4 linked regions of the Homo sapiens genome follow. The protein of the gene in region 3 interacts with the protein of the main gene of each other region in a pairwise test. Each region holds a gene or a part of one and is shown on either strand. Other genes may lie near its edges.

Region 1 (8,226 bases), on a different chromosome or scaffold from region 3:
TTTAAGTTTTATGTCTCCCTACTACTTAACGCCTTTATAACACTTCATTCTGTTTCTGCTACTTGATATTAATATATACTCTTAATTTTCAAATTTAAAAATATCTGAGGGCCAGGCGCGGTAGTTCACGCCTGTAATCCCAGCACTTTGGGAAGCAGAGGCAGGTCGATCACTTGAGGTCAGGAGTTCAAGACCAGCCTGGCCAACAGGGAGAAACCCTATCTCTATTAAAAAACAGAAAAATTAGCTGGGCATGGTGGTGTGCACCTGTAGTCCCAGCTACTTGGGAGGCTGAGACATGAGAACCGCTTGATCCTGGGAGGCAGAGGCCACAGTGAGAGGAGGTCACATCACTGCACCTCCAGCCTGGGTGACACAGTGAGACTGTCTCAAAAAAAAAAAAAAAAAATCAGGCTGAATGTGGTGGCTCACGCCTGTAATCCCAGCACTTTGGGAGGCCAAGGTGGGTGGATCACTGGAGGTTAGGAGTTTGAGACCAGTCAGGCCAACATGGTGAAACCCTGTCTCTATTAAAAATACAAAAATTAGCCTGATGTGGTGGCATGTGCCTGTAGTCCCAGCTACTTTGGGGGATGAGACAGGAGAATCGCTTGAACCCAGGAGGCAGAGGTTGCAGTGAGCCAAGATCGCGCCACTGTACTCCAGCCTGGGTGACAGAGCGAGACTCCGTCTCAAAAAATAAAATAAAATATAAATAAACAGATCTGACAACTAGAAGTATCTGTGAAAAAAGAAAAAAAATCAAGTAGCACATTTCCCCCCATTTAATATTAATAAGTGCTTGAGACTTTCATTTTTATCCTAAGACCTTGTAAAGATAAAAGACGACCTTTTGGCTTTTAAGTATTCTATACGCATGGGACACAAATTCAAACACCTTATAGGTAACCAGTGTATGAACTGGCCACTGTGAGATAACATGAAGAGAAAAGGCATCGGGTGATCTAGAAAGTGTCCATATTCCCTGAATGCATTTAAACTAAAAAAATTTATTTAAAAGTGCTGGCCAGTTTGAAACACATTCTATACAACCACTAAAAAACGCTTTCAGCCACTAAACTTACAAGTCCATGTTTCCAACTGTGATATTGTTTCATTTTTTCCATCCAATTTGTGACTTTATTTCATTTCGGTATATATCTCCCATTAGATAAAAATAACCTTCCTGTTTGCAGAAATCGTTGCCACATGGATAAAATCTACTTTTTACTTTTAGAAAAACATATTATCTCCTTATTATCCCTTTGGGGCAATTAACCAAGCATGTGAGGGCACCGAGAAATTAGTTTTGGTCTTACTGAAACCAAACAGCAAAGCTTGAATCTATTTCTGACTTTCTAAACTTGTTTCTCAACCTGTTTGTCACGATCCCTTTTGAAAAACAAAGATCTCAGATTATCCATCTCGGGACACTGACACTACATCCAAAAGATATATCTCTTGTGGCAGGAGATATACGCAGTGTATACTGTGTTTTTACATCAACAAATAAGTTTTTTTTTTAAAAAAAGCTTTATATTCTGTCATTTATATTATGAACACATTAATTATTCAAATACAAAATTATAATCACAATTTTGAAAACACACAAACCACTGAGCAATTACGATATGGTCCCCTGGAGCATATAGCTACCCTCTTCTGTAAAAAACACGTTACAGAAAACATGTTTACTGACGTAAAGTGAGCCCTGGGGCAAAGTAAACTTTTAAAGGGATCAACATATGAAATGTGTTTTAGCTGCTCAAATATCATGATTACTATCCTTAAAATAATCACACTAAGTGACCATTTCTTAAAACAGAAACTGTGAAAAACTGAAACTAAATTGCTGAAAATAACAAAACTCATTTGGATGAAAAAGAATAAAACATTGCTGACTCTGGGGTTGTGATCTGACAAGTTGGAAAACATTACCAGGACTTCCTGCTTCCATTTCTGACGTGGTTTCTAGGCTTGTTAGGTCTTTATGAAACAGTCGTCTTACAGTTCTGCAGCCTCTTGTGTCTTGCCACCTATAACCATCTTCATTTTCTTGAAAGGAGTCTTTTCTTTGTCGGTTTATAACAGGAATTCTAGGTCCAGGTTTGAATTCTCTCCAGTTGTCTGAATTACCAGTATGTTCATCAGACAGCCATCTCTTACTCTGATCTTTGTGGCTGTCATTCATCCAAGCGGGTTGACTGTAGATTGGGTTTTTAAATGCATATGGATTGCTGGAAACAGCACATGGTCCTTTTCTGGGGGTATTCCCATAGTTCCCTGGTGTTATCTTCTTTTTTTGAAGGCCCTTTTCCATTTTACTGCCATGGCCTTTAGCATGGTCATCTATTATTAAATAATCTTGTTGGGGGTGACCCCTTCTGAAGTCATCATCATCCATAGTCCCCCGGTCTTTAGTGCGCTTCACGAAATAAGGTTTTGCTGTATCTCCCATGGTCTTTGACTTCAATTTTCTTACTTTGCACCTGAAAGAAGGTATTTTGGGGAAATATCAAACTATATAACAAGATATCATACAAGTATACAAAATAACAATTTATCGTACAGATGCCCCAAAGCCTGTAAGAAAGAAACTCCCTATTTTTTTAAAATAAAAATTCTATCACATTCTTAATAATCAGTGCTTTACCCTAGAGGTTGGGAGGCTTGGTCCTCTAATATTCTTCATGAAAATTAATACTTACTATTTAGCATGAAGATTAAATGTGTGAATAAGAGAAGCTCTATAGGTTCCAGAACTGTAGCATAGTAGAATATTACTCATATCAAGTATGGTCGGCTTTTCCCTCTGTAACAAGGCGTTTCTCTTCAAAGAAAACCTCATCCCAAGCCAATATTATTACTAAACTACCGAAACAGTCTTTTGTTTTTTAAGTTGGCAATTACTTGTAAGTGTTATACACCGAAACTTTACGTGAAAGGAGTACTACATTTCTCAACTCCAATTTTCCGTCCCTTCACCACCCCTATTCTGGACAGACCGGCTTTGAGCGCTTAGGTTACGGAGGGGCTGGGCTTCCGACCAAGGTGCAGCTGTAATTAAAGAGGCTGGGTTTCCGATCAAGGGACAACTCCATCTAACCTCCTCAATCCCCGTTCTCCAACCCCAAACAAGTTTGGTTTTGTCAGGAACAGCAATTCCCTGAGGAATGACACTCCTCTTCAATCCCCATCTGACCGCTCCACCACCGATCTGCCTTAGTTTCCACCCTTTTGAGCCCGACGTGGAGAAAGAGGAGGCGTCCCTGCACTCCTGGCCAAGAAGCCACCGTGGGGACCAGGAAGCAGGAAGTGACCTGCTGTCTCCATGGGGTTCCAGGGTTCCCCCGGCCGGCCAGGGGGCCAGAGCCGAATGTCTTGACCCAAATCCCGTCTTCTGCGCCCGCAGTCTGACAAAAAGTGAAAACACGGACTCGAACCCGAGGGCTCAGCCTCTGCCGGCCTGGGGGTTCCTCGGTCACCCAAACTGGTGCGAGGAGGCCGGCGGGGGATGGAACCAACGTACCTCCGGGGCCAGGCCGGACAGCTACTCTGGAGTCCAGGAAACCAACTGGAGAATCAGCCCGGAGGCGAGTCTGGCAGGGACGTTGGGAGAAGGCGCCCAAGAGCACTCACCACCTTCGCCGCGGTCCCCAGCCTCTTCCTGTCCCGGCCGGGCTCCCTCTCCGTGTTTTCCTTCGGCCCCACTTCCGGCGCTCAGCGCTGTCTCATTGTGCGCGATTGGGAGCCGACTGTGCCCCCGCCCTAGCGCTCCGCCGCGCACACCGGAAACGAGCGACGCGCCCCGCCCCGCGGTGCCCCGCCCACGCTCCGACCCCGCCTCCCGCGCCTTTGCCAGCCTGGCCTCTCCTGTCCGGCGCCCCAGCGCACTCGCTCCAGGTGTCGGGCGCCGGGTCTGGCCACCGGGCGCAACCGTCGGAGCGGGCTAATTACTGGCTCGCCGGATAGCCGGTTCGCCGGCGCTTGGGGGCCAGGCCCGAACTTCTTACCAGAGCGGCGCCCGCCCCTTTTCTCTCCCGGCTTCGACGCTCCTCTGGTTCCCCTCTCTGCTCGGGAGGCTAAGTGCTCGGGAGAGGCGCGGGAGCCAAGACTTATGCACCCGGAGAGGGACGCGGAGCCAGCGGTCGGGCAAAGCCGCATTCCCCGCGCTTGGGGCCTCGGCTTTGCCCCTGGGTGCTCCCCGGTTACTTCCAGGGGGAGTAAAGGCTCCGAGGCCTCGTAGCGCTCTTGGTGTTTTTCTGATAATTCGTAGTGATTAATGTTTTCGTGAATTCTTAATTGCCGACCTTGTAGAAATGCCAGCATTTAAACATCCACTGCTCACCCAGATCTCAAAGTGGTCAAGGAAAATGCTCTGCTTTTTTCTTAGGTTGTGTAAGGATTACTTTTACTTGGAAAAAAAAAAAATCAGTTCATTTCGAAGAATATGTGTAATGGCAAGGGATGACCAGAGAGCGTTACATTCGAATTTTTGAGTTGAAGAGTGCACACCTCGAACTCGGGGTTGCTTTTTCTTTCTTTACTGTATGACCTTCCTTGCTGTTTACAGTGTTCTAAATGCTTTGAAAAACATCAAGCAACTAGTGAAATTAGGGAGCGTTGGGAAAATCGACAGTTTTCATTTCTCTGCTTTTTTAAAGCATGTAAATTGAAAGCTGTCAGGTCCTGTGGAGCAATGGTCTTAAAATAATAACACACAAAGTTCTGGCTATGCCAATAACTGTTTTGAAGGCTTTACAAATATTAACTCCTTTGTTTTATATTTTTGTAGAGACAGGGGTCTCCTATGTTGCCCAGGCTGCTCTCCAATTCCTGACCTCAAGCCATCCGCCCAACTTGGCCTCCCAAAGTGTTGGGATTACAGGGGTGGTCCACCATACCCAGCCTTAACTTCTTTAATCCTCACAGCTTCATGAAGACTATATCATTATCCCACTTTTAAAGATGAGGACATTTAGCACTTGCAGTGAAGTAAATGGCACTGCTGCAATCCAGACCCTGAATATGAGGCTGTTATTAACCATGTGGCTATACTAAAAGTGATATAAAACACATTCCTACAACTTTTATATAATTCCTTACTTAGATATTTTGATTGTGAAAATACGTGAGGATCAAACTGATAGTCTCTTCAACAGGCAGACAGTGGCCTTGAAAATATAGTCCAAAAGGGAGTGTGGAGATGCATGATTACATTAATTCTGAGACAGCAGCGTCACCACGCCCCACCCAAACCAGTAATTCCTGTGCAAAAGAACTGGTTTAGAAATCTGCCTCCACCTAGAGTTCTAGAGTAGCAGCAGAGGATACATACTTTTAAGGATTTTTTTTTTTTTTTTGAGATGGAGTGCCACTCTGTTGCCCAGGCTGGAGTGCAGTGGCATGATCTCCGCTGGCTGCAACCTTTGCCTCCACCTAGAGTTCTAGAGCAGCAGCAGAGGATACATCTTTCTAAGGATTTAATTTTTTTTTTTTGAGACAGAGTCTTACTGTGTTGCCCAGGCTGGAGTGTAGTGGTGCGATCTTGGCTTACTGCATCCTCTGCCTCCCAGGTTCAAGTGATTCTCCTGCCCCAGCCTCCCAAGTAGCTGGGATTGCAGACAGGCACCACTATGCCTGGTTAAGTTTTGTATTTTTAGTAGAGACGGGGTTTCACCATGTTGGCCAGGCTGGTCTGGAACTCCTGACCTCAAGTGATCCACCGGCCTTGGCCTCCCAAAGTGCTAGGATTACAGGCGTAAGCCACCAGGCCTGGCCCGATTTAAAATACTTTTGCCAGGCACTTTGGCTCCTGCTTGTAGTCCCAGCAACCCTGGAGACTGAGGTAGGAGGATACCTTAAGCCCAGGAGTTGGAGGCTGCAGTGAGCTATGATGGTGCCACCACACTCCAGCCTAGGCAACAGGGCAATACCCTGTCTCTCTCAAAAATAAATTTAAAAAATAAAACGTTTTGAATTTGCGTTTTCTTCAACGTCTTTCCCAAAGCCCAACTTCTTTTATTCTAATGGTTGCTTTTAAGATTCATTTTGAGGACAAATCAGGCTCTCTCAAATAAGATGCAGTACTAATCAAAATATATTGACAGCAGAATATACCTTTTTCTGTCCATATTATGCTGTAATGGATATTTAAATTGGTCCTAGGAATTCTTACAATCTGGTTGGAAATTTTGATTTGAGTTTTCTTTGGATGTCACTGGAAGGATTAATGAGTTTCTCAGAATCTTTATGGTGATTGCTTCACGGTCTTGACATATTTCCAACAACCTGGAGCAGAAATGTGAGGGCAAAGGCTGCCATATACTGTTAAGCAATGTTCAGAGGACCTTAATACTGCTCCATATGTTACAATATATTTTCTATCTTGAGCTTAACATTGTAATACAACTTGAAATCTTGTGATTCTATCTCGAAATTAACATTTAATACATAATATGTCTTGACATTCTTGTAATTCTATCTAGAAATTAACATTGTAGTACATGTAATACATCTTGGCATTTTTGTAATTCTATCTTGAAATTCACATTGTAATACATGTAATACATCTTGAAGTTTACATTGTAACACATGTAATACATCTTGACATTCTTGTAATTCTATCTTGAAATTAACATTGTAATACATCTTGACAAGTCAACTTTGAACAAACCCAGTGCTTTTTTTCTATACAGCCATGGAGTCAGAAATACAGGAATTATATTCATAGCTTTATCAGCCAAATTCTTTCCCCAGTGTTTTATTTTGTTTGGTTTGGTTTGGTTTTCGGTTTTTAGAGCTCTAATGCTTAAATGCCAGCGGTTTTTATCCACATTGTTAGCAAGTTATGTTGGTTTGTCCTTCAAATCTGTCTGGAGTCCAGTAACTTATCACTACTTTCTCTGCTTCCAGCCAAATGCTCACCACTATCACTTGCTTCCACCTTGTCCTCCAATCTACTCTTGACACAATAGCCAGAAAATGCATATTAAAAATCAGACTGAGTTACCCCTCAAAACCTTTCACTGGCTCCCAATTTCTCTGGGAGTAAAAACCAAAATCCTTCAATGACTCAGGGCCTTTCCCTTTACCTCCCGATCTCAGCCCTTATTCCTCTTACCCCAGTGGTATAATATAAAATATATTTGGCCTTTGTCCCCAGTTTCTGTCATAGAGCTCTTAAAATCCTTGAAATTTCCTGAGTGATAGAAGTGTCTTTCCGTGTTTATAGTGAGCCCCTAAACTCCTGAGTTTATGCTAATGAGATGATTTAGGATGGGGGCCCTACATAGCCTCAGCATGGGGCTAATCACCAGAAAGACCAAGTGATTGGAGGATTAGAGGGTTAGAACTTTGAGCTTCACCAACTGACCTCTGTGAAGGGGAGGAGGGGGCCGGAGATCAAGCTCTCTAAGTAGTCTTGAACAAAAAGATTTGATGAGATTCCCTATAGTTGAACACATGTAGGTGCTGAACGTTGGCTCACCTAGACAGGGCATGGAAGCTCTGTGCCCTTGCCCTATGTACCTCTTCATCTGGCTGTTCATCTGTATACCTTATAATATCATTTATAATAAACCAGTAAGCGTGTTTCCCTGAGTTCTCTGGGCCACTGGGGACACGGGAACCTCAGAAACCAGTCAGTCAGAAGTATGGGTGGCTTTGACTTGTGACTGGTATCTGAAGTGGGGGCAAACTCGTAGGGCTGAGCCCTCACCTGTGGGATCTGACACTATTGCCAGGTAGATAGAATTGAAATGGATTATAGGACACCAAGTTGGTATAATTGCTTCTGTAAAGGCAGAAGGAACTTTATACCCTCAGAAGCTTTGATGGTTTGAATCTATAAAACAAACTGACAATAGACAGATTAACAGGAGAAAAAACATATCGATTTATTAACTTGCAAGCTAGCGAGACCCAAACAAAGTATGAAACTCAAAGAAGGGCCAAATGGCTGAAGCTTAAATGGGACCCTGAGCTACAGAAAGAAACCAGGGCCTCTGATGGGGAGGTGGTGACCACAGTCATTGAAAGGTGAGGGTAGAGTAAGTGTGTGTTGAGCAAAAGTTTCTTCTTATACAGATAAAGTCTTTCAGACTAGAAAAATGGTTTTAAAAAAATAGGTGAAAAGTGTGTCCAGCCAGACGTGGTGGCTCACACCTGTAATCCCAATACTTTGGGAGGCTGAGGCCTGAGGATCACTTGAGCCTAGGAATTTGA
Region 2 (7,862 bases), on a different chromosome or scaffold from region 3:
GAGTATATTTAGTTTCAGTTAATGCTATAACAGAATACCATAGACTGGTGGTTTATCAACAACAGAAATTTATTTCTCACAATTCTGGAGGCTGAGAAGTCCAAGATCAAGGTGCTTACAGATTTGTTTTCTGGTGAGGACCCACTTCCTGGTTCGTGGATGTTTGTCTTCTCCCTTTCACATGGCAGAAGGGGTGATGGAGCTCTCTGGGTCTCTTTATATAAGGGCACTAATCCCATTCATGAGCGCTGTTACTCTCCTGACCTATCACTTACCAAAAGCCCCACCTCCAAATACCATCACATTGGAAATGAGATTTCAACATTAGAATTCTGGGGGCACACAAACATTCAGTCTACTGCAGACATTAAATAAGAATCTAGGGTAAATTCTAACAAAGAATACATTTGAGTTAAAGAGTGAAACATAAGACTTTAAGAAAGAAGGAACAGTGAAAATATTCTTTAGAATGAAAATGATAGTATTTATGTACTGAAAATATGTCCTTGACAGTAGTCATTGGGTTTGAAGTAAGTATGGTAGCATAATCTCCTAAAAGAACATTTCTGATACAAAAAGGAATTAATATTGTGCGGAAAAGGCATGTTCCACTCTCCCCCAGTCATACCCCAAGTTTGCACTCTTTGCTATTCCTGCCTTTAACCCCTTCTAATTTCTTTTCAATGAAACCACTGAGAAAGTAGGAAACAGAAAATGGTGGTAGTGAACCAGATATAAAAAAAAACTTCCAATGAAGAACTTAATAAATAACTTTAAAAAGAACATTTTTATACTCTAGCCATTATCATAGTACTTGGTAAATACGGGTATGTTGGCATCTTTTTCCTTGACCCATCAGAAGTCTTGAAAGATGTGGTCCTCCGGAGTTTCAAAGTGTTTTATTTATTGAAGAATGAATTTCACTACTAACCTTATTTCTTTCATATTCTACTGGCTATTTTACCAATATAAATTTAGTCTTCATAAATAAAAAAAATATGTTTTCATAGCAGCAAGTCTACGTCCATTATTGTGAAGTTTGCTTTCAAGGAGATTTCGTGTTCCATCATGAATTAAATTATCTGCTCCCTAAGTAACTTCATTTGCAAAATGTCAATAAAGTTCATAGCTCTCTATTAAAATTCGAGCCACTCTGTCATGTAAATACAGTTAGATGGTGAAATCTCACCACCTTCGTGGCAGTCATCAAAAACCTTTAAAAAAGAAAAAAAAATTATATTCAAATTAAAGTTTTAAAATATCTAAGACCCAACCACTTATTTAAAGCAAGATTAAAAACAAAACTTTCAAACTGAAAGGGACTAGGACTGTACTTAAGAACATATTATAGCCGGACGCAGTGGCTCACACCTGTAATCCCAGCACTTTGGGAGGCCGAGGTGGGTGGTCAAGACCATCCTGGCTAACATGGTGAAACCCCGTCTCTACTAAGAATACAAAAATTAGCTGAGCGTGGTGGCAGGCACCTGTAATCCCAGCTACTCGGGAGGCTGAGGCAGGAGAATTGCTTGAACCTGGGAGGCAGAGGTTGTAGTGAGCCAAGATCGTGCCACTGCACTCCAGCCTGGGCGACAGCAAGACTCCATCTCGGGGGGCGAGGGGGGAGCGGGAAGAACATACTATAATAGGGCCTGCTTTGTGATCATCAAGTTAGGAGTAGTAGAGAGGCTTTTTTTACTGTGGCATTAAGATGACCATGCTCACCTGTCTGCTGGGCAAAAGGCTATCACCAGGTAACACAGGAATATGGGCAGGGAGACCTATACATATGAATGACTTAATTTTGATTAACCAAATGTTTCATGTTTAGCTACCTTTTTGTGAAGGGTGCAAAACAGAATTCCTAATATGTTAGCCTTTTGTCTAGGGACTGAAACCAAGGCATAGAGAGCTTAGGCATATAGACAAAGGTTGGTATAATGAAATAAAACACACACAGGCTCATCTATAAATGCCATGAGGACTGGGACAGTGTCTCTTGCTTTCTCTTGTATCCTTAGTGCCTAGAGCATAGAGTTGGCACTTACAATATTTGGGAATGAATGAAGGAGGAGTGCTGGGGCATGCTGCAGGGGAAAGACATGATCTCTGGGTTTGAATCCCGGTTACTTCTAAGCTGTATGCCCCTATGTCTTCCTAAGCCTAAGCTCCCTCACTTTTAAGGGGAAATAACACCACTAGCTTCAAGAATGTAAGGAGGATTAAATGAGACCGCCTATGGAAATCATCAAGGACATATCTGGCCCAAGGTAGGTTCTCAACAAATCTCATTTTCTGCCCTATTTAGGTGAAATGATTAGCCCTCATCAAAAAGTGTCCATTTCAAGGCCAAGAGCAGAAAACGTAAATATCCTTAATGTGGTTGTTCCAAGAAAGAATGTAAAGCAGGGGGCCAGGTACAGGGGCACATGCCTGTAATCTCAGCACTTTGGGAGGCTGAGGGGATCACCTGAGGTCAGGAGTTCGAGACCAGCCTGGCCAACATGGTGAAACCCCGTCTCCACTAAAAATAAAAAAAATTAGCTGGGCATGGTGGTGGGTGCCTATAATCTCAGGTACTCAGGTGGCTGAGGCAGGAGAGCTGCTTGAACCCGGGAGTTGGAGGTTGCAATGAGTCAAGATTGTGCCACTGCACTCCAGCCTCGGTGATAGAGTGAGACTCCGTCTCAAAAAAAAAAAAAAAAAAAAAAGTAAAGGAATGATGTGTTCATTAAAGGTCTGTTCATCAAGGTTTCATGGAGGTTTGAATAGCTCTTGGTCAACCCTAAGAGTCTGAGAAAACTGGGCTGTGCTTGCTCTGTTTCTTAATGTGGCACTTGCACCCGTGGGCAGTCAAGTGTAAAGTGAAGCCACTTTAACTCACCGGGCAGAGTCCACAGGGTGCCCGGACCAAACCTGTGGGAGGGATGATTGGATTGACTGCCCTGTACAGTTTCATGTGTCCATCTACACTGCCAACTGTGCCTTCTTTTGCAGCAATAATCGTCATCTCCACTTTTCCATCATAAATGAGTGTATTCAGGATGGTTTCAATGTCTTCCATGGATAACTCTACCTAAAAAAGGGATACATCAGAAAGGACACAAGTAGGATAGGGAGACATCCACTTGGAGGGTGTTAAAAACAGTAAAGGGTTGCTGGGCGCAGTGGCTCACGCCTGTAATCCCAGCACTTTGGGAAGCCGAGGCAGGTGGATCACTTGAGGTCAGGAGTTCGAGACCAGCCTGGCCAACATGGCAAAACCCTGTCTCTACTAAAAATACAATTAGCTGGGTATGGTGGCAGGCACTTGTAATCCCACCTACTCGGGAGGCTGAGGCAGGAGAATGGCTTGAACCCGGGAGACGGAAGTTGCAGTGAGCTGAGATCGCACTACTGTACTCCAGCCTGGGCAACAAGAGCCAAACTCCATCTCAAATAAATAAATAAAACAGTAAAGGGTCATAATTCTGCTGTGAAATGGGAGAAACATTATGCTGGGGTGGAGTAATTTAAAGCACAAAGAGGAGGAACAATAGGCCAAGTTAGCACAAACCACTGAGGTGCCAGGGACAGAACTCTAAGCTCATGCTGAGTTTGACACTTTCTGGTATCTTTACTTCCTAAGTAAAATCGAGAAATCTTATAAAAAATAACATTTCTTTAGCAGGAATTTATTGGAGATTTATAAAATGCTTGAGCAGAAAGGCACTTTAGACATCAAATAGTCCAAGTTCCTAGTTTTTATGAGAAATCTGAGGCCCAGGAAATTAAAGTGACATGTCCAAAATGGCCACTTTGATTTCTTCACTGTGAAAAGCATCAGTGTCCTTAAAAAAAGAATTTCAAAAGGCTAGGGTACAGTGGCACTTTGGGAGGCCAACGCAGGAGGATCACTTGAGTCCAGAAGTTCAAAACCAGCCTGGGCAACAAAATGAGACCCTACCTCCAAAAAAATAAAAAAAGCATCAGTGTCCCAAGCTGAGTATCAGTTCAGACAATGCCCAATGGCAGTGACTGCCTTTGCCTAAGATACAGGACAGTATTTTCCCAAAGTGGATTCTGCAGAATGTTCGTAGCTATCATCTCAAAAAAAAAAAACAATGTGGGTCAAATACATGTTTGGAATACATTGTATGTGACAAAGAATAAGTTTTAAAAAATAAGATGAAATTCAGTTCTGACCTTACTGATTCCCAATTCGCAGATATATTTCCACACTTCATGTGATGAGGCAAATGAACTATTTCTTTGTATCATTGGGTTCTGTTTGCTTTCTCGTGCTGTTTCTGCCTATAAGGATTGAAACATAAGAAATGTAAATAAGAATATTGGTGTGTTTTCTGAATACACTTTATACTGAGTCAAACCAACAACAGAACATATTTAGTTAAGTAAAAATTCCCAATTTCAGGTTTTTAATTCCTATAAAATATGATAAATAGATTAAAATCCTTTGTGAAAAACTTTTTACAAGAGGGTTTGCAGTGATGTTTCCTCAATCATACCTCACCTTGGACTGTAGGAATTTAAAACACTGTTGGTTAAGCACCTCTACAAATTCAGATTCAAAATCCTGGTCACTGTACCAGGCTCCACCAGTCACAGACCGGTCTGGCTGCAGGTTATAGAGCATATACACCTTCTTTTTTGAGGCCTAGGAAAGAACATGCACAGTTCATGTGTTTATAAGATAACAATTTCCAAAAACAAAAACACCTATATTTTGGAACAGTTTAAGATGTACAAAATTATTGCAAAGATAGTACACAGAGCTCCTATATACATCATGCTGTTTCCCCTATTTTTAACATCTTGGATTAGTGTGGTACACTTGTCACAATTAATGAACTAATATTGATAAATCATTACTAACTAAATGCCATACTTTATTCAGATTTCATTAGTCCTAATGTTCCTTTTCTGCTCCAGGATTCCATCCAGGACATCATACTACATTTAGTCATCTCTCTCAGGCTTCTTTTAGTTGTGACAGTTTCTCAAACACCGTATTTCTATCACTATGGACTCATGAGTATTTATTTTATACTTTGATTTACATTCAGATACTTCATTGTTATTCCCACACTGGAAGCTTTGGAATGCTTTGGGCATTGGAAGCTTTTCACTTGGTTCCTGTATCCCTTTGCTATGCTCCCATCGTGTGTGTGTGTATTTTAGCACTTTTTTTTTTCTTTTGGAGACAGGGTCTTGCACTGTCGCCCAGGCTGGCGTGCACTGGTGCAATCTTGGTTCACTGCAACCTCTGCCTCTTGGGTTCAAGTGATTCTCCTGCCTCAGCCTCCCGAGTAGCTGGGGCTACAGGCATGTGCCACCATGCCCAGCTAATTTTTGTATTTTTAGCAGAGACGGGGGTGTCACCATGTTGGCCAGGATGGTCTCGATCTCTTGACCTCGTGATCCTCCCGCCTCAGCCTCCCAAAGTGCTGGGATTACAGGCATGAGCCCCCGTGTCCAGCTATTGTAGCACTTTCTTACTTTCTAGCACTACAAGATGTCAAGAGCATTTTCTTTTCTTTTTTTTTTTGAAACGGAGTTTCGCTCTTGTTGCCAGGCTGGAGTGCAATGGCACACGATCTCAGCTTACTGCAACCTCCACCTCCCAGGTTCAAGCGATTCTCCTGTCTCAGCCTCCCGAGTAGCTGGGATTACAGGCGCCCGTCACTATGCCCAGCTAATTTTTTTGTATTTTCAGTAGAGATGGGGTTTCACCATGTTGGCCAAGCTGGTCTCTAATTCCTGACCTCAGGTGATCCACCCTCCTTGGCCTCCCAAAGTGCTGGGATTACAGGCATGAACCACCCTGCCCAGCCGTCAGGAGCATTTTCTACATGTTCATTTTATTGCATGATAGAAACCACGACTTGGGCACTAGATGTGTTCATTGCCATCGGGATGTCATCACTTCTAGGCCTTCTCAGTTGGCAGCACGAGATTTATGTGCGCATATTAACCCTTGTATATATACATAGCTATACTCAATATTTCTAAATATAACCATCTATATTATTTATATTAAATTACACAAGAGTCCATACTGATGTTTTCAAGTCTAATCCATTACTACATGGATCATTCTAACTTTCCTTGTTTGTCTGTAACTACTCACCCCAACACTGAGGAACCCAAATTTCACTGGGTTGTAAACATGAAGAATTTGGGCCAGGCATGGTGGCTTATGCCTGTAATCCCAGCACTTTGGGAGGCTGAGGTGGGCAGATCTTTAAGTCTAGGAGTTCAAGACAGGCCTGGGTAACATAGTAAAACCCTGTCTCTACAAAAATACAAAAATTAGCTGAGCATGGTGGCACGTGCCTATAGTCCCAGCTACTTGGAAGGCTGTGGTGGGAGGATGGCTTGAGCCCAGGAGGTTGATGCTGCAGTGAGCTGTGATTGTGCCACTGCACTCCAGTCTGGGTGACAGAGCCAGACCATGTCTCAAAAAAAAAAAAAAAGAAAAAAATTTGGCTAGACTTTGTCCCTTTTTCCTAGGAAATAACTTCTACATCTTTGGAATTTCCCAATAGGCCTTGTTATTCATGGTGAATCCCTTAGATCACACCTGGGTTTATGCTAACAAGGTGACTCCTGATAGGACTCTAAATAGTTTCAGGATAGGAGTTGTCCATGCTGGAAAGACCAACCGCATGATTAGAGGGTTGGGGCTTTGGGCCACATGACATCAGTCCAATCTCTTGGGAGAAGAGAGGAGCTGGAGATTGAATTCACTCACATGACCAAGGATTCAATCAATCATGCCTGTATAATGAAACCCTAATAAAAACTTTGGACAGCAAAGCTTGGGTGGGCTTCCAAATTTGGTTAATGCTTCTGTCATACAAAATAATTTCACCACCCTAGAAATATTTCTCATGCTTCACCTATTCAACTTTCCCTACCATCCCTGCCCTCACCCCGATCTTTTTAGTCTGTCTAGTTTTGCCTTTTCCAGTATGTCATATAGTTGTAATCATACAGTATGTAGCCTTTTCGGACTGGCTTCTTTTACTTAGCAATATGCATTTAAGATTTACTCATATCTTTTCATGATAGCTTATTTCTTTTTATAACTGAATACTATTCTGGTTTGTCTATCCATTCACCTATTGAAGGATACCTTGGTTGCTTCCAGTTTTTGATTATGAATAAAGCTGCTGATTACGAATAAAGCTGCTATAAATATTCATGTAGTTATGTGGACATGAGTTTTCAAATCAGTTGGGTAAATACTTAAGAGCTTGACCTTTGGACAATGTGGTAAGACTCTGTTTAGTTTTGTAAAAACTGCCCAGTTTTTTAACAAAAGGACTGAAAATTTTGCATTCTTAGCAATGTATGAGTGTTCATCTTGGTCTGTATCTTGTCAGCATATGGTATTACCAATTTTTAGATTTTAGCTATTCTAATAGGTGTGTAGTGGTATCTCACTATACTAAATTTTATTTTAATTTGCAGTTCTCTAATGAAAAATAATGTAGAGCATCTTTTCATATGCTTATCTGCCATCTGTATGTCTTCTTTGGTGAGGTTCAGATCTTTTGCTCATTTTTAGTTGGATTATTTGTTTTCATTGTGTGTTTTTTTTTTTTTTTCTTTTTTTGAGATGGAGTTTCGCTTTTGTTGCCCAGGCTGGAGTACAATGGTGCAATCTTGCTCACTGCAACCTCTGCCTCCTGGGTTCAAGCAATTCTCCTGCCTCAGCCTCCCAAGTAGCTGGGATTACAGACATGTGCCACCACGCCTGGATAATTTTGTATTTTTAGTAGAGACAGGGTTTCACCATGTTGGTGAGGCTAGACTTGAACTCCTGACCTCAGGTGATCCACCCGCCTTGGCCTCCC
Region 3 (7,862 bases):
ATTTCTATGTATTATAATTTAAGCCTTGGGTGATAAAAATCTCACAAAGTTACTTATCCCCTCAATTTGGTTCCAAAAGGAATCAGCAGGCTGAAGACATTCAGACAGCAATTGCTAGCTTTTTCCTTCTAACTACCAGCCCCATCAATCCACACTTACTTGTCAGCTGCATGGCAGATTGTGCCACAAGTGTCAGCCATGTCATCCACAAGGATGGCCACCCGATCCTTCACATCTCCCACAAGCACCATGCGGTCCACTTCATTGGCCTTCTTCCGTTCTTTGTGAATCAAGGCAAAGTCCACATTCAGCCTGTCTGCAATGGAGGTCACTCTGCAAAACAGAGCGTGTTCATATGTATGTGTGGCTTCTAAGACAAAAGAAATGGACTAAAGAGGCCGGGGGCGGTGGCTCACGCCTGTAATCCCAGCACTTTGGGAGGCTGAGGTGGGCGGATCACAAGGTCAGGAGATAGAGACCATCCTGGCTAACACAGTGAAACCCCATCTTTACTAAAAATACAAAAAATTAGCTGGGCATGGTGGCGGGCGCCTGTAGTCCCAGCTACTCGGGAGGCTGAGGCAGGAAAATGGCGTGAACCCAGGAGCTGGAGCTTGCAGTGAGCTGAGATCGCGCCACTGCACTCCAGCCTGGGTGACAGAGCGAGACTCTGTCTCAAAACAAAAAAAAAAGAAAAAAAGAAATGGACTAAAGAATGGGCTTGTTTTGGGGAGGAGAATACTCCTTGAAACCAATAGTTCCCAGGGCTGGAAGAATGAAAGCAACTATCATTGACTTCTCAAAGGCAAATATCACAAACTGGGTTTTATAAACCAGTGCCTCCATAGCTCAACAGAAGCTTATGAACGTACTGATCAAACTTAGATGAGTATTCATTCTGGGTAGAGGACAGACACCCTCACCAGTACTGGGAAGCAGTATAACGCTAAGACACGCAAGTTTATTTAATGGATTGGCAGCAGAAGGAATGAGGAAAGAATTAACTAATGCCAGGAGTACACAGACTGTCCCAATTCCCATCATGGAAGACCCGTGAATGGGGATGTGGTGAGAAGAGAACCTGACTGGCAGGAGAGGAGCAGCATCCAGCCTGTTCCAATGCCTGTGTCCTCATCACTTCCCTCAGTGCTGTTGGCAAAACATCCATCAACTGTCACTGTCAACTGTACCTGGACACCAAGCTTGGGAGTTTTTTTCACAATTGCTAGACAGAAAGTTATATCAATTACCCAGACAAGCTAGGCATCTCACCATTCGGTCCAAAGTATCTTCCAATCAAAGAGAATTCTTATTTTTCTTATTACAAGAGAAAATAAACCAGACTAGAAGGTAGGATAGAAGACAAATTTGTCTTTTGACAAAGTACCACATAATTCAAACAAAAATCTATTCAGTGTAAATGACAGTGAGCTGCCCCAGTGGCACGTCTGTCCATGCTCCGCTGTGCCATCTCCGTCATGTGTGAAGCAGCCCGTGCTTGGGGATTTGTCCTGTTTTTTAATGTAGAACTGAACAAACTATAGCATTTTGTCCTGTTTCTCTTGTGACTATGGTCACATGAGTTTTTGCTGGATAAGTGAGAACCTGTGACCACATAATAAGGTTTGAACCATAATCTAGGTAACATTTGTACCTTGATCTAAACCAACCATACCCTGTACTCTCCATTACTACTACTGCATAAGCACATAACATCAGTGGTAACCAATTCGCTTGGAATGATTACTTACCCAAGGCAAATGCATGATCAATTAGTTCAAGTATCCCAAACCAACCATACTCAAAGGCCAACAAATTCAGTGACCAACAAAGCATAAAAAGGGCTAGAAAAAGTAACTCTCTACACCTTTTGAGGAGAGAACTACTGTACAAATGAATATCACACAGGGATCTCTACCTACTCCCCAAACCCTGCCAACACAGAAGTGATAGACACTCAATTGTAAAATACTCCATCACTATAAGACAATGATAATGAAAAAAAAATCAGGTAGCAATAAGTTGTCTACTAAAGGCAGTTTTCCTATACCCACCTTTGGAAAGAAAATCCTGCCTATTTCAAATGTGACTATTTTCTAAGTCCCACAGAAAGATATTAAAATAATGACCGACAAATTAAATATGACAACTACTAGTTGGGGGGATGTTTCTTAGGCTGTCTCTAGCATTACAGATGGTAACTAGCAATTACATGGGACTCACCAACCCATATATCTGGCTGGATAACATAACTCAAGTTCTCAGCTTATCAGTTCTGTTGAAGTTACTGAAATAAAAGAGGTTGTTGAGAAACAGTCATTGAAGATTTGAATGGCTTTTAGAAAGTTCTGAATTAGCTCTTCCTAATCATCTGTGTTTTGTAGCTCTTCATTCTATTTCCACAACAAGAAGAACATGTGTCACACTTTTGAATGCATTACTAACGAGTAATCCACTAAGGAAATCAAGAGCTCTTAGTCTGCACCATGTGAGCTGCAAAGCACTGTTAACTGGCAATCCCTGGCAATCAGTTTGTTTAAAATGTTAAGATCTTGGCTTTAAATAAAAATGTCACACTTTACTTTCCTTCCTGCTTAATATTTTAATCCCAAGGATCAAAATGATCTAACCAACAGCATTGTAAGAGGAGTGTAAAAGCGAATTTGTCCACCAATATGTGGTTCAATAGCAGCTGCTATTCATTAGAAAACCACATTTTCTACCCTTCCCAAAAGGTTTATAGCTGTATTGCTAGCTCTGTAGCACCAAGTTACTCATAAGTTATAGTCAAATCCATAATATGATGATTTAGGACCCCTTTTCTGTCTTGTCTTCCGAGTAGTAACTGAGGACAGTAAAAGAGGAAAGGGTAAAACTATATTCAACCCATGTGCTAGCTACTTACATCCATTCAAAAATACTTAAAAACTGCCACTTGGATAGAAAAACTTCACTTTGTGACACAACCATCTGAAAGATTTTCCCAGTACATTGGGAACAATACTAATTTCAACCATACCTCTTAGCTCCACCAGCATCAGGTGAGACAATAGTGCAGTTCCTCCACTCAGAGATATTCTCCCTTATCCACTTTAGGACAGCCGGCTCTGCATACAAATTGTCTACTGGGATATCAAAAAAGCCCTGTAGAAAGAAGCTGGATCAGTTTTGCTTCACTTTCCTTCTCTTCCATTTATAAATGGCAAACACAAAGTAGTAACTTGCTCAGAGAATGTCTTACTGCAACATTCAAACTGATGGGAAGGCAGGCCCAGTGTGGTAGATTATAAAAGCCTCCTTGAATCTGGGCTATGTGAGAGAGCCCAGCCAAGATCAGCAAAGCCAGCCCTCAGTCAACCCACAACTGAACATAGGAACATAAGTGAGCCCTTGTAAAGAATGGCTAAGTTCAGACAAAACCATTAAGAACTGCCCAGTCAACATGCAGACTCAGTGAGTTTGTAAATACTGCTTTATGCCACTAAGTGTTGGACTGATTTGTTAAGGAGTAAAAGCTAATGGATAAACCAGTTAGAGATGCTATGGCATATAAACTTAATGGAAGCTACTTATGATAAATAGTCACAGTGAATAATTAGAAATCAGGAGATCTGTGTTCTAATTCTAGTTGATACAAATTAGTTGTATTTCTCAATTAAGTCATTCCTTTCCATAAAAGGAGTACAGTCCCTGTCCAATGTACTTCATTGAATTCCCACAAGCTTGAAATGTAATGATTTGAAAAATCTCTTTGAAAAAATATAAAATAAAGGTGGTATTCCACCCCCCTTACTTTGGGTTTATGTTGGAAAGTAGGCTCCAATATCTGTGGCTCTAAATTTAAGACCATGAGGCCAGGCACGGTGGCTCATGCTTGTAATCGCAGCACTTTGGGAGGCTGCAGCAGGCAGATCACTTGAGGTCAGGAGTTCGAGACCAGCCTGGCCAACATGGTGAAACCCCATCTCAACTAAAAGTACAAAAAAGTTAGCTGGGCCTGGTGTCAGGTGCCTGTAATCCCAGCTACTTGGGAGGCCGAGGCAGGAGAACTGCTTGAACTGAGGAGGCAGAGGTTGCAGTGAGCCAAGATCGTGCCACTGCACTCCATGAATATTCAAGGAGAATAAGAATGATAATAACAGCTCCTATCTATGAGTACCTGTCATGGGCCAGGCATTATAATATGAATTTAATGTTTTATACTCACAATAATGAAAAAGTATATGTTCAGAGAAATTAAGTAACCTTCCCAAGCTTACAAAGCTAGTAAATACCAGAGCCTTTATTCAAAGTAGTGCTCTTCCCATAAAACTAGACTGCCTCCCTATCTAACCACCTGAAATGACTAAGATCATGAAGTATGCTTAAGGTGAACACATTTAAAATGTTGTTGATATCTAGTTTATTTCAGATGTACTTGGGCATAATTTTTGGCTTCTCTGCAGTCTTCAGCATCATCAGTCCTTTCCTCCCACCTTTCAAACACCAATATTTAGCTTCCACTGATACCTGAATTTGAGAAGCATGTAGGTCCATGGTGATAATATGATCTGCACCTGCTACAGATAGCATATTTGCAACAAGCTTGGCTGAGATTGGCGCCCGGCTCTAAATGGAGGGGAGGAAAGAAAAGAAAAACCAAAAAGCCAATTTGAAAAACAATTCATTTACTCAAGAAACTATTTATTGTGTACCTACTATGTTAAAGGCACTATGGTACCCAGAAATTCATAGAAGGAGACATGTCCATTGACTTTAAGTGGATCATAATTCAGAACAAATATTAAGTGGAACATCACTTTTCCAAATCAGGATACACTTATCAATAAAGAAAATGCTTTCCTAACTTTTGTTTTCTTAATGTACACATTTTCAATCCTATTCAAGTGTTTCCAATGCTCAATTATTCAAACTAGGCAGACTTTAAAAAATAATTTTATTAAAATCTCTTTCAACACATACATATGTAAACCTTTAACACCTAACATGTCAAGGTTTGAAGATACATCACAGAATAGATATTATAGTTTCCTTTGTAAATCACATCACTACTTACTCATCTGGAGGTCAACTTTCCAACAACTATGAACTCCTCAAATAAAACATACTTGCTGCACTGTAAAATAGCAAAGTCCATGCATGCCTTTTTTTTTTTTTTTTTTTTTGTAGAGACAGAGTCTTGCTCTATCGCCCAGGCTGGAGTGCAGTGGCATGATCTCAGCTCACTGCAACCTCTGCCTCCTGGGTTCAAGCAATTCTCCTGCCTCTGCCTCCCGAGTAGCTGGGACTACAGGCGCGCAGCGCCACGCCTGGATAATTTCTTTTGTATTTTAGTAGAGACGGAGTTTCACAGCGTTGCCCAGGCTGGTCTCAAAACTCCTGAGCTCAGGCAATCCTCCCGCCTCGGCCTCCCAAAGTGCTAGGATTGCAGGCGTGAGCCACCGCACCCGGCCCATGCCCTTTACTTTATACTCTGTTGGAATAAAAATATCTGACCTTCTTCGAGGCATTGTGTGTAAAATTGGGCATTAATTACAATAGACTTGCAAAGTTTTATGTATATGCCTTATCCTCTAATATACCAGGATAAGGTGAGAGATATATATAGTTTATCTATCTATCTATCTATCTATGTATCTATCAGATCAAGTATTCATATAACAGACTTCAAGTTTTATGAAGAGGTCACAACTAGGATCCCAATCTTACAGTTTGAGAGGATCTACCGTAATTTTAAAAATATACTCCAGTACTCCAGAGGAGTTGGTGCTTAGTCTTACTGATACAATTAAAAATACCAGTGAGCTAACTGAAAGTTATATATGTATCACTGTAATAAAATACAGACTACAAATGTGTTGCTTTATACAAACCAATTATATTTCTATTGTTTTGAAGATAGGGTAATACCTAAGAAAAGGTGATTTTTAAAATTCCCCCTAAATATATATTTGATAATTTTGGAATTTATTTGTGATTTGGGGCAAGTGCTCCTGCTTCCTCTGCTCAAAAAATAAAATTCTGCTCCTACCTTATCTTTCTTATCCTGCCGGGCATAAGGGAAGCATGGGATGACTGCAGTAACCCGGCTGGCTGAAGCAATCTTGCAGGCATTAATCATGATCAAAAGCTCCATTAAATTGTCATTGATTTCGCCACAACCACTCTGAACAATGTAGACATCCTCTCCACGTACACTTTCACCAATTTCCACACTACAATGAGGAAAGAAAGAACATGAAATAGATTTTAAACCACTGTACTGTCAGCCCTCCATATCCATAGGTTCCACATCTATGGATTCAACCAAGTGTGGATTGAAAATATTTGGAGAAAAAATTGCACCTGTATTGAACATGTACAGATTTTTTTCTTTGTCATTATTTTCTAAATACAGTATAACAACTATTTACGTAGTATTTATATTGTATTAAGTATTATAAGTAATCTAGAGATGATTTAAAGTATATGGCAGGGCTGGGCGCAGTGGCTCATGCCTATAATCCCAGCACTTTGGCAGGCCAAGGTGGGTGGATCACTTGAAGTCAGGAGTTCGAGACCAGCCTGGCCAACATGGCGAAACCATGTATCTCTACTAAAAATACAAAAATTAGAAGGGCATGGTGGCAGGCGCCTGTAGTCCCACCTACTCAGGAGGCTGAGGCACGAGAATCGCTGGAACTCAGGAGGCGGAGGTTGCAGTGAGCTAAGATCACACCACTGCACTCCAGCCTGGGCAACAGAGTGAGACTCTGTGTCAAAAATAAAATAAAATAAAATAAAATATATGGGAGGGCCTGGCATGGTGGCTCAGCACTTTGGGGAGCAGGGGGCAGGGTAGAAGGAGGATCATTTGAGCCCAGGAGTTCAAAACCAGCCTGGGTAATACAGTGAGACCCCATCTCTACAAAAAATAAATAAATAACAATAAAGTATAAGGGAACATGTGCATAGATTATTTCATATGGCCGGGCGTGATGGCTCACGCCTATAATCCCAGCACTTTGGGAGGCTGAGGTGGGCGGATCACCTGAGGTCAGGAGTTCAAGACCAGCCTAGTCAACATGGTGAAACCCGTTTCTACTAAAAATAAAAAAATTAGTCAGGGTGTGGTGGCTCACACCTGTAATCCCAGCACTTTAGGAGGCCAAGATGGGTGGATCACCTGAGGTCAGGAGTTTAAGACCAGCCTGGCCAACACAGTGAAAACCCATCTCTACTAAAGTATAAAAATCAGCCGTGCATGGTGGCACACGCCTGTAGTCCCAGCTACTCGGGAGGTTGAGGCAGGAGAATCACTTGAACCCGGGAGGCACAGGTTGCGGTGAGCCAAGATCACGCTACTGCGCTCCAGCCTGGGCAACAGAGTGAGACTCCGTCTCAAATAAAAATAAAAAAAAAAAATTAGCTGAGTGTGGTGGCAGGTACCTGTAGTCCCAGCTACTCAGGAGGCTGAGGCAGAAAAATTGCTTGAACCGGGAGGCAGAGATTACAGTGAGCAGAGATCGTGCCTCTGCACTCTAGCCTGGGTGACAGAGCAAGACTCCATATCAAAAAAATATATATATATATATATATATTTATATTACACTATTTCATATCTGCAGATTTGGTCTTGGGACCAATCCCCTGTGGATACTGAGGGATGACTTTACTATACTTCTATAGACAATAAGGTCTAAGAACAGCTTCCCTACTAGTATGCTGTGAATGGTTACAGCTACATGTGGATATTGATCACCTAGGCTTCAGGAGATCCTCTGAAGGAGCCTTATACCAGAAGCAGTTCACTGCCTCAGTTTACTCCAGTGCACTATACAAATATTACCATTTTCTATGGTAATATTTTCTAATATTACCAT
Region 4 (7,862 bases), on a different chromosome or scaffold from region 3:
TTTTATTTACTTGCATCAGAAGTGCTTTTGATGAGCAAGAGAAGACCGTTCTCAAGTTTAATAATAGAAACCCATCCGAGTGCTTTCACTTTGTTAGTGGATAGTGTAGCTTTGCAATTTGGAGCCCTGTTCTAGAGTTTACAGATTTTTTTCAAATCCTTGCCTGTCCTTTGTTATGGTCTTCAACAAGTTATTCAATTTCTTGGAATCTTATTTGCTCCCATGATGAAAGGATAATATTGCTCATTTCTTAGAGTTGTTTTTGAGGATTAAATTAGATCACAAGTGTGCGCCATTTAGCACAATGCCCAAGTAGTTAGTGCTGGGTAATTTGTAGCTATGATTTAATTATTGTCACCATCGTTATTATACCAGTCATAGTTAAACCCAGCACTTGGGTCTACATTTGTAAATAAAAGCAAATTCCCCAAGAGTAGCAATGCCGTTTCTCTAGATTAAGAAGATTTCTTATCGTTATATACATAAGAGTAGACACATAGCAATGTTCATTAAATAAATGCTGTTGAATTAAAATGAAAGTGAGCTTGGTGATTCTTAAATATGACATGTTTTTCAGTTTGTTTTACATACACAGACCCCCTTCGGAAGGAAAAATGTAATATAGCTTTCTCTCTGTCCTCTGCTACTCAGACAGCAAATTTAATGGGATTACCTGGAGTTAGTGTTAGAGAAACTCACAGGCCTTTCATTGTATGAATGGAGAAGCTGAGGCCCTGATGGGGAAATTAACTTGCCCAAGCAAAGCAGGGAGTTTTGTGTGGTCCTCATCCCTGCCTCCTGGTTCCTGCCCTGCCAGGTGTCAGTGTTGGCCTGCGGGCTGCTCTTCCACTCTGAGAGTCCTGTGGGTTTCATTTGTAAAGTGTCCTCTCCGGGCTCCTCCCTCCCCCTCCCCAGTCCTCTGTGTCCCCTTCACAGCCCAGCTTAGGCCCTCTGCCTGCTGAGGTGGGCTCCTGTCCTCAGCAGTCTCTCCAGCACACCTTGGACTTGGGGTCCTGGTCATGTATTTGCTCTTGATTTCACAGAAGGACAGAACCTCAGAATCATGGTGGAGACCCTCAGTGACTTTGTCTTGTAGGAAGAGAAACAGGTCACATTGTGGCAGTGACTAACCCAAGTTCATCTGACAACTTTGGGGAGGCTGCAGAGTACAGTTGTTATGAACAGGGGCTTCGGGGCCAGAGATTCTGATTGGAATCTAAATCTACGCTTAAAACCTCTGTTATGTTAGACAAGTAACCTAACTTCCCTAAGACTTGGTTTCCCTTCTCTATAGACAGCATAGTTGCTTTGCTTAACTCATGAAGTTGTTTTAAGCCACAATTCTGATAGCATCCTTGGATGTGCTTTGTAACCACAGGGCTGGTCTGTGGGAGATGGGGTTGCTAACAATGTCACTGCTGCCATTGGCTACTGCTCCCAGGACCCCTGGTACTGAATGGGAGCAATGGGGGATAAGGACAGGCTGGCAGTGGCTAATCCACAGTAAAACATCTCTAAAACGTCTAGTTTTTGAAGGCGGTCACAATAATCTGTATATTTCTGTTTCAAGAACCTTGTCTGGCACCAATAGGTGATTAAGACATGTGTGTTAGCTCAACATGTCACAACTGTCTTGGTATGGGACACTCTGCTGGGTACCGACGGTTTGATTAGTAGGTCTGCCGGTGAACCAGGAAAGGTGGCACTGCCCAGATAAGGCAGCAGGTGAGACTGCAGTGCTCCTGGAATGGAGGGAGGCTGGGGGAGGTGGGAGGACAAAGGCCTCTCTGGGCAGATGTGGAAGGCAGAGGCAGGCCAAGGCCAGAGACTTCTGTGGTTCTCCTCTGTGTGCTTGCTAGAAGACGTTAGGTGACCTGGGGAGGAGGAGAGGCTGTGCACTGCAGAGTGGGATGTCTGGCCCAGCCTCTGAGCTTGCTGGCCATGTGCACTCCAAGGAGTGCACCAATGCACCAGTGCTCTCTTGCAGGGGATTTTCCACAGTTCTCCTGGAGTGAGACCCAAGCCAGAGGCTTGTCCCAGAGGCTTATGGACCTGTTTGTCAGCATCTCACAGTTCATTCACAAGGGTCGCAATGGTGAGGCGGTTTGGAGATTGGCTGGGGCTTCTTAAGTGGTCAGAAATGTTTCTCAGGACTTGATAATGTCTGGGCTGAAAGTCAAAGGGGTGGGGAGGAATCCCAGGAGGTTTGTCTCCAACCACTCCCATGGATCATCCTGAGTCCTTAGGCAAAGGGGAGTTCCTCAGCCTAAGGAGAGAAAAAGAAGAGAAACTCAAATGAAGAAAGAGAAGGAGGCTGGGCGCGGTGGCTCACGCCTATAATCCCAGCACTTTGGGAGGCCGAGGAGGGTGGATCACGAGGTCACGAGATCGAGACCATTCTGGCTAACACGGTGAAACCCTGTCTCTACTAAAAATACAAAAAATTAGTTTGGCATAGTGGCATGCACCTGTAATTCCAGTTACTCGGGAGGCTGAAGCAAGAGAATTGCTTGAATCCGGGAGGTGGAGGCTGCAGTGAGCCGAGATCGCGCCACTGCACTGCAGCCTGGGTGACAGCGCGAGACTCCATTTCAAAAAAAAAAAAGAGAGAGAGAAGGAGAAAAAACCCAGAGAGAAAAGACATGTCCTCCACTCCCAGCTCCAGCATGACAGTGTCTCCATTGTCCCTCAGAGCGCTCCTGGGGCTCCCATGATGAGAATGGAGAAAGGGAGCCCTCAGGTAGCCTGACGCGGCAGGTGGGATCTCACAGCCCTGCCGCTAGGGAGTGTTCGCCCGGAAGAAAGAGGTGCAGACCCCGTGTTTATGGAGCCTCCTGTGGGCTCTGGAGTCCCTAGTTGAGGAGACTGATAGAGCTTCCTTCAGAGAGTCATGGTTCTTAGGGGAGGGGAAGACAAGAGACACAGTTGAGACCAGGGCAAATGGCAGTGAGGAAAATGCATCCTCAGGCTTCTGGGCTAAGGAGGCAGCTCAGAGCCCCAGGGTGGGCGGCGGGGTTGGCTGGGGTGCTTTCTGAAGGAGGGGAGCATGTAGGCCAGGGGGCAGTAGGGGATGGGATTTGCCCTTCAGGGAAAGACAAGGAGAGATTGTCTGGGAACAAGGCGGCACGACTTCCCAGGCTGAGTGCAGCGTGTGTCTGGGCAGTGGTTCAGCCACAGTGGAGAGAAGGAGGGGGCTTTGGTGGTGAAGGGCTCCCCCAGGGTGTCTCCCATGCATGGGGCAGGTCGGGCCTGAGCATGAGAGGTCAGGGCACATGGTCGACCTGTTGGGGGAAGATGGGCAGGGCCTGCTATGTGCCATTCTGTGGTCTTCCCTACAGATACTCCCACCATCGTCTCCCGCAAGGAGTGGGGGGCAAGACCGCTCGCCTGCAGGGCCCTGCTGACCCTGCCTGTGGCCTACATCATCACAGACCAGCTCCCAGGGATGCAGTGCCAGCAGCAGAGCGTTTGCAGCCAGATGCTGCGGGGGTTGCAGTCCCATTCCGTCTACACCATAGGCTGGTGCGACGTGGCGTACAAGTAAGAGGCTAGCCAAGTCCCTGAGGCCCACATCCAAAGTCACGGGGGTGCTTCCCACTTCCCCTTCTCTGTGGCTCTTATTTTCTGCGCTTCATTTACATTGCTTTTGTAATGAATAGAAATGGTAAAAGGGGAATCAAACAAAATCCGAATCCTTCGGGGATTGTAAGAGGGATGACTCTAAGCCACTTATTTAAGTGGCTTTCGATTCTGGTGCTCCTGTGAAAAAGCAAGGAAGGTTACGTAACAACTGCAGTTTTAACTGAGTCCTTGGAACTCACGAAACGTTACAGTTTACAGAGGTCTTCACAAATATCACCCGATTTGGCCCTCCCAGCTACTCTGAGAAATGGGTTCCTACCCATATTCCTACCCTTATTTCACAGGCGGGAAAGCCATGGTTTGGGGGAATTAAAAGCTCTGCTCAGAGAGAGGAAGCACGTACCCAGAGCTGTGTGAGAGCACCTGCCAGTGTAGCCCTTGCTCCTCCCCACCTCACAGGGACTCGCACCTGGGAAGCAGTGTCCCACTTGTTACCCTGAAAGACCACTCTGACAGCAAGTCCGGGGACCCCACCGGGGAGAGTGGGCTTTGGGAATGGCGGGGAGGAGAGACCCGCAAGAAACAAGGGAGGGCATGAAGGAGCTGTGCACTGTGCATTGAGTTTCTGCTCTGGGGATCATCAGTGGAAGCCCAGAACCTTTTCTCCCTTAGCCTCAAGAATGAGGAGACACATGTAGAAGGAGAGGGAAAGAGAGAGTGGGAATGGGGCTGTCCCGCATGGAACTCTAAAGACAAACATAAATAATTTCTGAATTATCCATTTTGGAAAGGAAAATCTAAGTCTTATTTATTTATTTATTTATTTTTAAACACAAATAAATAAGAGCAGCTGCAGGCCCTGGTTTTGGCCCCCAGCACCCCTGGGATGGCTGGGTCTTCCCTGTCTGCCCATGGGGCATGTCATGTCAACCACGACTCACCTGCTGCCCCTGCCACCAGCACCTCCACCATCCTGCTGTTGTCGCTGCTGTGTTTTCTGGTTTGGTCACTGTATTCCTAAGTTATTTCAGCCTCTGCATCTCTAAGTCAGGTTTCTACAGTGACAACTTGACAATCTCCAGTTTTTGCAATGCAGCTGACAGTAGCTGTAAGGGACTGTTCACACCGTACTAACCACAGGCTGCTGCAGGAGTGACCAAGGAACCTGTGAAAGTACTGGCAGCAAAGCCAGGGAAGGGGTGGACACACCAGGCTCCACACCCATTCCTCATGTCGACATCGGTGTAGGGTGGAAAGTCGGCCTGACTCAGTTCAGTGTCTTTCCTTGACCTAAGGGAGGTGTTCTTTCTGTGTTCAGTTTGCTGCGGAAACTCATGTTCTATTAAAAGATGAATACGGCAAAGTTGTGAAAACATCAATTCTGAAGACTGATTGGAAAGTGGAGGAGAGAAATTATAAAGAGGCAGGAATAAAAGAAGTAGAATAAAAAATTGATTTAAAAAGTAAATGTGAAAAAGGAACATTCTAAACAAATTTCTATGATAAAGAAGAGCTTAAGGAAATTCCTAAAGAGAATCTGAAGAAAAACATCAATACAAAAGGAACTATTGAATCTGGCATAATTATTTTAGAGAATGTTCAAGTGTTTGGTCCTATAATTTAAAAACATGATGTAGTAATTTTTAAGCTCTTGAAAAGCATTGAACTAATGTCCTCAGGTCCTTGAGTGTCATGCAGTCAAATTCCACTTTGAACCAAATGAGTATTTTTGAAGTGAGGTTCTGGAAAACACATGCAAGCTAAATCCCAACAAAAATTAAAATATATTCCCATGTCTCTTGGAGGTCTAAAACTGGTTATTCTGCACCTCCTATTGTTTTGTTATTGGAACATAGTACTTACTTATGAGCCTCCAGAACCCCTTTTCCTTTTGAGGATCAGTGAGAGGTTTTCATTTATGGAGATTTGCAGTAAAATCATTATTTCCTTCTTGTCAGCTTCCTGGTTGGGGATGATGGCAGGGTGTATGAAGGTGTTGGCTGGAACATCCAAGGCTTGCACACCCAGGGCTACAACAACATTTCCCTGGGCATCGCCTTCTTTGGCAATAAGATAGGTAAGGGTCACTCCCTGCGGACCCTGTGCTGGAGAGTTGTGTACACTCTCTTCCTCCACTCCCAAGGGTCAACACTCATCTTTTTACCCTACATCATACTTACCTTCTCTGATGATCACCCTTCTCTTGAAATTCTTTTCTCCTTTGGATCCTGTGACATGCATACTTTTTGTCCTCTGCCTCTCTTTACTGGTCTGTACTCCTGTGATATTGCTGAAGCTTGCATGGGCGTTGCTTGAGCTCACGGTTATTGCTGTCACTTCTAAAGTCTGAGGTTGTCTGACATAGATGCTGTGACTGCCAGAGGCAGAGAAGCATGGCTCATCTCTTATTCCAGTTCCACTGGTAGAAAGTGACCAGAAGGCAGCAGGCAAGGAAATCTGGAGGTATAATTTGCAGGCTTCTAGCCCCTAGAAAAATAGAGAAAAGCACAGAACAGGGATGGAGCTGAGAAATAATACATATGGAACCAGCACCTGCCAGCATCCTCATTTGACAGCTGGGGCTAGGTAACAGCATTTCTCTCAGAGGTTTTCTGTGAGAGTTATGAGTTAACAGATATAAAAAGCCTACTGCACACCTGATCAGGGGAGCTATGAGTAAATTCTGGTTGCCTTTTCTCCTGTGCTAGTGCACACCTGACTTGGTCAGGTGGGCCTCCCTTTGCATGTATCCTTCACTGCCTTCCAGCTCTTCTGCCTAGAGATGGAGTGGATAAAGTCTTAGCTTGGCTCTTGGAAGAAGTTTTCAACCTTGGCTGCTAAGAGATCTAGGTAGCTTCTCGCCTCTTAGGCACTCTGTTCTGGCAACTGGACCAGTTTCCTCTCTTCCAATCCAGTTATTCAGGCTCAAGTGGTCATATCATCCTTTCTGCAGGTGTCTGGTCTAGGTGGAGTTTCTTACTGACATTTTTGTGCTCCCTGTCCTCCTCTTTAAGGCAGCAGTCCCAGCCCTGCTGCCTTATCAGCTGCAGAGGGTCTGATCTCCTATGCCATCCAGAAGGGTCACCTGTCGCCCAGGTATATTCAGCCACTTCTTCTGAAAGAAGAGACCTGCCTGGACCCTCAACATCCAGTGATGCCCAGGAAGGGTAAGACCCTCCATGTCACCTCACCCTCCTCCTCGTCACCACCTAGCCATGTTTGGAGTCATGTTTGGGAGTGCTTTTTCCTGTTAGACCCCATGGGATTCTGGGACTAAGAACATCTCATGCCTACTTTGAGATCTGGAAAATTCTGAGAGGGCATCTTCCTGGCCTCCTCTCCATCCCATCAGAATGAGATAGCCATAGACTTCTTCTTAAAACAAATACATATGTACACAGATTTTCAGTCAGTCAACAAATATTTACTGCATAGCAGGCACTGTTCTAAGTACTGAGCATACAGCTGTGAACAAAACAGATGAAACTCTTCACCTTCAGGAAGCTTGCACTTCAGTGAGAAGAGACAGAAAATGAACAAAATAACAAAGAAATGTATATGATGTTAGACGGCATAAAAGCTATGGAGAAAAATAGAGTGGGAATGGAGTGGGATTAACATGTATACATAGTTGTGTCTATTATGTGGGGACACGAAGGACATACATAAGCTTACATACCTTTCTAAATGCAAAAACCAGCCATGGCCACAGCACAGCCACAGCTCGGAGAAAAGCTTGTGCTCACAGATGATGCTGACATCAGAGTGCATATAACAAAAAGCTGAGTAATAAAAATAATGCACTATTTTGAAGTGAATAAGCAGCAACCTAAAACCAGTCAAATTAATAAGCACTCCTGCTAGTGGACCTTTTCTTGGGATCAATGATATTTTTAGAATTAGCTTTTTAAAACTGTAAATCTCAAATAAAATGTTTCTTGCTTTTGGACAGGCACTATCTTCAATAATGATAATTTCTTAATATTTGTACAGTTCTCTCTAGATTTCAAGTTGTTTCCAAATATGTGTGATCAGTTCGGAGAGTCCACTGACTTCCGCGTAGTAGCCCTGTTACATAAGCGCACATACCTGCATATATATTTGCAATGCATGGTCTTTTGAAGACAATGACCATGCCTCTGTATAACCCACAGCCCTTTCCCTTCTGCTTATACGCTGATTTCTATTGGTATCAGGCCTGTAGATTTTTGCCTCAGCCCCTTGGCTCCAGCCATCTGAATCAGAAACCTCCCAACTGGACTTCCCCAGAATCCCAAAGC

The links.
Region 1: the proteins of PRPS1 (region 3) and TUT7 interact in binary tests that used the Homo sapiens proteins (3 or more experiments, as listed by UniProt).
Region 2: the proteins of PRPS1 (region 3) and POLR3F interact in binary tests that used the Homo sapiens proteins (3 or more experiments, as listed by UniProt).
Region 4: the proteins of PRPS1 (region 3) and PGLYRP3 interact in binary tests that used the Homo sapiens proteins (3 or more experiments, as listed by UniProt).

Annotation. Positions count from the first base shown.
Region 1 is NC_000009.12:86,350,742-86,358,967, forward strand, and holds the start of TUT7 (terminal uridylyltransferase 7), read right to left. Parts: upstream 3,670-8,226; 5' UTR 3,530-3,669; exon of another isoform or gene 2,709-3,529; intron 2,490-2,708; 5' UTR 2,459-2,489; coding exon 1,939-2,458; intron 1-1,938. UniProt on the Homo sapiens protein: Uridylyltransferase that mediates the terminal uridylation of mRNAs with short (less than 25 nucleotides) poly(A) tails, hence facilitating global mRNA decay. Essential for both oocyte maturation and fertility.
Region 2 is NC_000020.11:18,476,833-18,484,694, reverse strand, and holds the end of POLR3F (DNA-directed RNA polymerase III subunit RPC6), read right to left. Parts: intron 4,658-7,862; coding exon 4,514-4,657; intron 4,294-4,513; coding exon 4,186-4,293; intron 3,077-4,185; coding exon 2,885-3,076; intron 1,215-2,884; coding exon 1,137-1,214; 3' UTR 49-1,136; downstream 1-48. UniProt on the Homo sapiens protein: DNA-dependent RNA polymerase catalyzes the transcription of DNA into RNA using the four ribonucleoside triphosphates as substrates.
Region 3 is NC_000023.11:107,637,648-107,645,509, reverse strand, and holds part of PRPS1 (ribose-phosphate pyrophosphokinase 1), read right to left. Parts: intron 6,216-7,862; coding exon 6,032-6,215; intron 4,609-6,031; coding exon 4,510-4,608; intron 3,145-4,509; coding exon 3,020-3,144; intron 334-3,019; coding exon 160-333; intron 1-159. UniProt on the Homo sapiens protein: Catalyzes the synthesis of phosphoribosylpyrophosphate (PRPP) that is essential for nucleotide synthesis.
Region 4 is NC_000001.11:153,302,744-153,310,605, reverse strand, and holds part of PGLYRP3 (peptidoglycan recognition protein 3 precursor), read left to right. Parts: intron 1-1,570; exon of another isoform or gene 1,571-1,725; intron 1,726-1,987; coding exon of another isoform or gene 1,988-2,095; intron 2,096-3,338; coding exon 3,339-3,540; intron 3,541-5,540; coding exon 5,541-5,659; intron 5,660-6,596; coding exon 6,597-6,749; intron 6,750-7,862. UniProt on the Homo sapiens protein: Pattern receptor that binds to murein peptidoglycans (PGN) of Gram-positive bacteria. Has bactericidal activity towards Gram-positive bacteria. May kill Gram-positive bacteria by interfering with peptidoglycan biosynthesis.